Regions from separate parts of the Homo sapiens genome. Here region 2 is linked to region 1. Evidence: fine-mapped expression QTL. A gene starts in region 1. The other region holds a variant in brackets. All regions are shown on one strand. Distances are from middle to middle.

Region 1 (2,907 bases):
CCAAACCAAATATTCACTGTTCCTGGGGGGAGACTGCTTCTTCCTCCCTAACCGTGAACCGCTGTATATTTTCCAATTTTGTGATTTTCCTTTTTCTGCTATCACATTAACCTCCAAGAGAACTGCTTAAGTTACATGGAATCCCAACCTAATCACATCACGACTTCTCTCTCAGCCTTTACATTTTTCTCTCAAATATTAGCTCTTCGCATTTTTTTTTTTTTCTAATAGCTGGGCTGAGTTGACAGAAAAGGGCTGTGGAATTCCTGCTCTGTCCGATATCTTCCCTGTATTCCTCTTTTCTCATCCCTAGTCTCTGTTCTAATTCCCCCGCCTGCTGTCTCTCATTGACGCCTTCCCAGCTGCTGGATCCTTCACTAACCTAAGCTAAGGATATCAAATGGAATCTTTTCCTTCTCAGGGGCTATGCTCTTTCCTTACAGTTACCCACGGAGGAGAGAGGACAGGAAAGGTACTAAAACAAAGAATTGCCAAGTCCCTTTACCTCCAACTTTGGTGTAAATATATAAGGAAAGGGGATCTGCCAGGGCTCTTCTTTCCTGCCCTTAGACCTTGTTCCTCTCACACCTCTCCTTCCCAGCCTTTTATACCCCTTGAGGTATTAGTAGATTGTTCACTGTGGGCCCTAAGGCTTGGAGGATTCCCATGGGTCAGCCCCCACACCCCCACGCCCCTACCATCCTCTTTAATTAACTTCTCCCTAAATCCCAGGGCTTCGTCACAATCGTAATATGGTTCTTAAGGACTCAACTCCCAGTCTTTCCCAAAGTTGGGACATGGCCTGGCCCCGAAACGGGTGCGCATAGCCTTCCTTGAACTGGAGGTAAAGACTTCTCCTGAAGGGTTTGCTGGGGCTCCAACCTCAGTCAGTGCGCTCAGCTCCAGCAAGAGAATCTCTCCTTACTCTCAGGGAGACTGGGTCCCCCACGAGGCAGCCACACGCCCCCGGAGGACAGCGCTCCTGACCTCCTCTAGGACTCCCAACATTACTGGGGTGCTCCCTCCGGCGGCGCCCTCCGCTGGGAATACGCAGTCTTCACTCCTCTCAACAATCCTAAGTTGCTGGGTCCTCACCAAGGCAGGGGGCTGAGATGTTCCCTCCAGAGAGCCCCCCGCCCCCAAGCTCTTTCGGTGGCGGAGACACCCAAAAAGAGCGAGGGAGGCTGTGGGTCTGTCTGTCCCTCTGCGGCGACTACCCAGCCGCGAGGCAGGCCCCGTCCCTCCCCCTCGGACGCCCCACGCCGGGTCCACCCCGCCACCCGCCGCCGCGAGCGGGCTCAGCCCCAGGGGTCTCTGCTGTGAGGCTGCCCTCCTCCCGCCAGGCCCCGCGCTACTCGCCTTTCCCGTGCCGGCCGCGGACTCTGCGCTCCAGTTCCCACCCGCAGCCCAGAGTCTCCGGGCCCGCTGGTCGCGGAGCCGGCTCGCGCCACTACCTGCAGGGGCCGCCGCGCCTCTCAGCGCCACGCCGCCGCCATCTTGCATTTCAAACCGGCTGCACTTTTCAGGGAGTCAACTCTGACCTGTGAACCCTAAACCCGGAACCGCTCGGCGGGCCCGCAAAGGGGCCTCAGCAGCTCGGTGGCCCCGCGGAGTGTGGGGACTCAGGGTGGGGGTGCGAGGAGAGGCGCGCGCCCCAGCGGCCGTCCGGGGGCGGAGGGGGAAGGGAGAGAGCCGGCCAAGGCGGGGCCCTCCCGCGCGCGCGTCCTCCGCGCGCCCCCACCCCGTGCGGCGCCGAGCTCTCCACGCCCAGACCCTGCTACTCCACTGGGGTCCGACCCCGGCCCCTAGTCCGGGGATTGGCGCACCGCGGGAGGTAGGGAGGCGCCCCGCCCCCCTGTCAACAGAAGCCCCGCCCCAGACTGCGGAAGCTCCGCCCCCTGTCAGGAGACGCCCCGCCTTCCCAGGGCTCGAAATGGCCCCGCCCTTTGCCTGCGACCGCTCCGCCCGCTGTGGACTGAAGCCTGGTCTTCTCTCGGGTCAGCACAGAAGGCAGCCCCGCCTTCCTTGCGCTCCGCCTTCCTAATGTCACTGCTGGATCGTGAGAGGTAAGCATGCTGGCTTCTACTGAAACGCCCCTTGTCATCACACGCCCATCCCCTGGGGCGACACGACCCAGGCCCCGCCCCTCGGGGGGCTGCTGCGAGTCCGGCCGGGAGCCCAGCGCCCTGACAGAAGTCGCCGCGCCCCTTGTCAGCGGCAGCTCCACCTCTCCTCGCTTCGGACCCCGCTCCTCCGCGGGCCGCAGCTCCACCCGCTGACACCGAAAGTTCAGTTCAGCTGCACTCAGAACCGCCGGGCAAGGCGGAGCCGCCCTCTGCCCCTCAGCCGCCCTCCTCCCTGCGAACCGCCACTCGCTCTTCCAGAGGCTTCTGTCCGAGTCGAGGGCTTCACATCCCGTCGGCTTTCAGGGAACCAGCCCCGCAGCGGGGCCAGCGAGGGCCAGGGGTTTCGGGAACACTGCCCGGCGTCTCCGCCCCTCCCTACTCACTTTCCCTTTCCCCCGCACCGCGGTCAGAACGTGGAGGAACAGAACCAAAGCGGAGAGCGGCGACTCACCCTCCAGCTGCTCCACACGCCGGGCCTTGGACGCTCGAGCGCTCCTGGGCCCCTTGACGTTCACTCCCCACCCCCATCCCAGTCGCGGACCCTTTGTGCAGAGCTCCGCTGAGCCACAGTAATCCTAAAAGCACAGCAGAGCTCCGCTGAGCCACATTAATCCTAAAAGATGCAATTGCTTCAAGTGGAAGTCTGATTTTTTTTTTTTTTTTGAGACGGAGTCTCGCGTTGTCGCTTAGGCTGAAGTGAAATGGCGCGATCTCTGCTCACTGCAACCTCTGCCTCCCGGGTTCAAGCGATTCTCCTGCCTCAGCCTCCCGAGTAGTTGGG
Region 2 (2,907 bases), 24 kb before region 1:
AGGGAAATTAATAGTTATATACAGCTACACAGAGTTAACATATTGCAAGGGAAACAACTATATTCAAAGGCTTCATTTCTAATACTTGACATTTCAAATTTTGAGAACATTAAAATTATTGTCAAACAAAACTCAGACCACATTAGCAATGTTTATAAAAGGGAGCAATTTAATCATTATATTACAGAGTGCTTTAAGAAGTTTTTAAACGTGTAAAAGAAAAAAAAAAAGCTTAGTGCATTACGGTCTTTACATTGCTTCTTTTTTAAAAAAGTTAACAGTAGTATGAAAAAAGCCACCCACAAAGCCAGCTGTCTGAGTGAGGAAATCAGCTACATTGCAGCATTTTGGAATTACTAATAAAGCTATAGTTAAAAAATAAAAAGTTTATAAAAATGAAAGCAGCATGCATATTCAAGGCTTTTTCATAACATTTTCAATGGCTGAAAAACATTTAACCAAGAGCTTAATATTTATTATCCATTAAATTAGAGAAAATAAACTGGCTAAGCCTACATCTGGTCATTCAGAAAAACATGTTAAAATCCAAAGCTAATTAAACTGAACATTTCTTCTACGAAGAAAGCGCATTTTGAAAAATGGTCCTATGGTCACAAAAGAAAGGGTTCTTCCCAATATGAATGAACAGCACCAGTCTTTACAAAGTTTGTAAATTAGTATGAACTTTCAGTCTCCTGATACGGCAAGAGTTAACAGTTAACACTCCCATGATTCATAAGTGAAAAGCTAACTTTTAACTCATTATGATCAGTTCAGAATTTTTTCTCTATTCACTGAAACTGTTATAAAATTTCACTGAAAGATAACTCTTAAAAATTCTGATCTGACACCTGTATAAACATTTCTGATTTCCACGATTGTAAGAAAACACTAAGTATACATTTACTACGTGATTCTTTTTCACATTTTTGGTGCAGTATTTATTTCAAAGCTTCACCCTATCCAAATTACCATGTCAGTTTCTTTTCCTTCTTCAGAATTAATTTCCTGCAGTTTAATAAAAAGCAAATCAGCTTCTAATGGAACAAGTAACAGTAGAAACAGTGGTATTCATGGATGTGTTTAATGAAGGATCCAATTATTAAGGGCCAGTGAAACCATAAAATCTTATTGTTTCAACATATATAAATAGGCTGTTTTTACATTTGAAATTGTATAAGCCCATGCACAACTTTTAATCTTAGTGCAGGGTCTGATAAATAAGACATAGTAATAAATCAGG[G/GT]TTTTTTTTTTTTTTTTTTTTTTACCCATTTCTAACAATTTTTACTGTAAAATTTTTGGTCAAAGTTCTAAGCTTAATCACATCTCAAAGAATAGAGGCAATATATAGCCCATCTTACTAGACATACAGTATTAAACTGGACTGAATATGAGGACAAGCTCTAGTGGTCATTAAACCCCCTCAGAAAGTCTAAGATTCAGAATGTCTCCATCATATTAGAAGAAAAATGTACTGTATTAAAATTTAAATTGCATTTTTACAAGTTGTTTTTTAATTAGTGTTCTATTTACATTGCAGAACTTCCACCAACTGCAGTAGTTTAACTTTGGCACAACATTAAGTTCCATTTCTTTTGGGTATTGGATCCTGCTTTTTGAGTGTGTATGCCCCAAAACGTTTTCAATGTCATCAAAGATTGGGCAAATTCACAGTAAATCAGACATCTTGAGTTGAAGAATTGATTCTCCTTCAACGTTTTAGGCAGCTAAAAAAGAAAAACATCATAAAAAACTGAAAATTTAAAGAAAACCATATTTTAATTTTTACTACTTTTAGAAATAAAAGTGAAAATACATCTTTTGTATTCTCTTGAGATTACCTGCCACATATGTCTTCCATAATACACTAGGCTTTGTGTGCAACTCATCTATGTATATGTTCTTCATATGCTAGATTTGCTTATAAACATTTATCATCTTTATGTAATAATTTATTTCAAACTGTATGAGCAGGGAGTATATATTTCATTGTCAGTATCTGTAATAAGCAGACTATGAAATCTAAAGACTTGTACTTTTTTCTATTTCTATACAAGGTGCAAAAGATATATATGTACCTCACTTCCTGTAATAACTATTTTGGGAAGGTTTTGGTAACTTTTTTGGTAAATTGAACAATATTTAAATGAAGAAATAACTATTTAGAGAAGGCTATGGTGAATCCTCTTATAAGTGAAAAATTATTTTACTCAGCCAAGGATAACTTGATGTTTCAGAAATTTAGACTTTTGTGTATTTAAAAAGGCATGCTTCTATGCTATCACAAAAGTATATAATATGGTTTGGCTCTGTGTCCCCATCCAAATCTTACCTTGAATTGTAATTATTAAGGGACAGTGATACCACAAAATCTTATTGTTTCAACATATGTAAATAGGCTGTTTTTACATTTGAAATTGTATAAGCCCATACATAACTTTTAATCAGGGAGTGTCGGGGGAGGGAGCCTGGTGGGAGGTGACTGAATCATGGGGGTGGACTTCCCCTCTGGCTGTTCTCATGATAGTGAGTGAGTTCTCAGGAGATCTGGTTGTTTGAAAGTTGTGTGGAACATCCCCTTTCGCTCTCTCTCCTGTTCGGTCATGGTGAGATGTGCTTGCTTCCCCTTCTTCCCCTTCGCCTTCTGCCATGACTGTAAGTTTCTTGGGGCCTCCCAGTCATGCTTCTTGTTAAGCCGGCAAAACTGTGAGTCAACTAAACCTCTTTTCTTCATAAATTACCCAGTCTCAGGTCGTTCTTTATAGCAGTGTGAAAATGGACTAATACAGTGCATGTATAGCATACATCATACAGTCTTTTGAAAACTGTAGTTTTAGGATGAATTTTCTGACCAGAATTAGTATCCATTACAGTGTTAATATATAACATAAGAATTATCTATACAAA

Evidence for each region. PIP is the estimated chance that this variant, and not a neighbour inherited with it, causes the effect.
Region 2: its variant is fine-mapped to the expression of ZHX1 in whole blood (INTERVAL, PIP 0.94).

Annotation. Positions count from the first base shown.
Region 1 is chr8:123,272,763-123,275,669 of GRCh38, forward strand. ZHX1 (zinc fingers and homeoboxes 1) reads right to left here and starts at 1,524. Exons shown (of 4, transcript NM_007222.5): 1 at 1,455-1,524. It overlaps ZHX1-C8orf76 (ZHX1-C8orf76 readthrough), which reads right to left and starts at 1,524. Exons shown (of 6, transcript NM_001204180.2): 1 at 1,455-1,524. RefSeq lists silencers at 781-1,148, 1,185-1,384, 1,585-2,274 and an enhancer at 2,755-2,874.
Region 2 is chr8:123,248,594-123,251,500 of GRCh38, forward strand. All of the region lies in intron 2 of ZHX1-C8orf76 (ZHX1-C8orf76 readthrough), which reads right to left. ZHX1 (zinc fingers and homeoboxes 1) reads right to left here. Exons shown (of 4, transcript NM_007222.5): 4 at 1-1,727. Among named protein-coding and RNA genes, the nearest start is that of C8orf76, 8.7 kb to the left of the region's middle. RefSeq lists an enhancer at 2,452-2,661. The variant G/GT (reference allele first, on the strand shown) is at 1,244.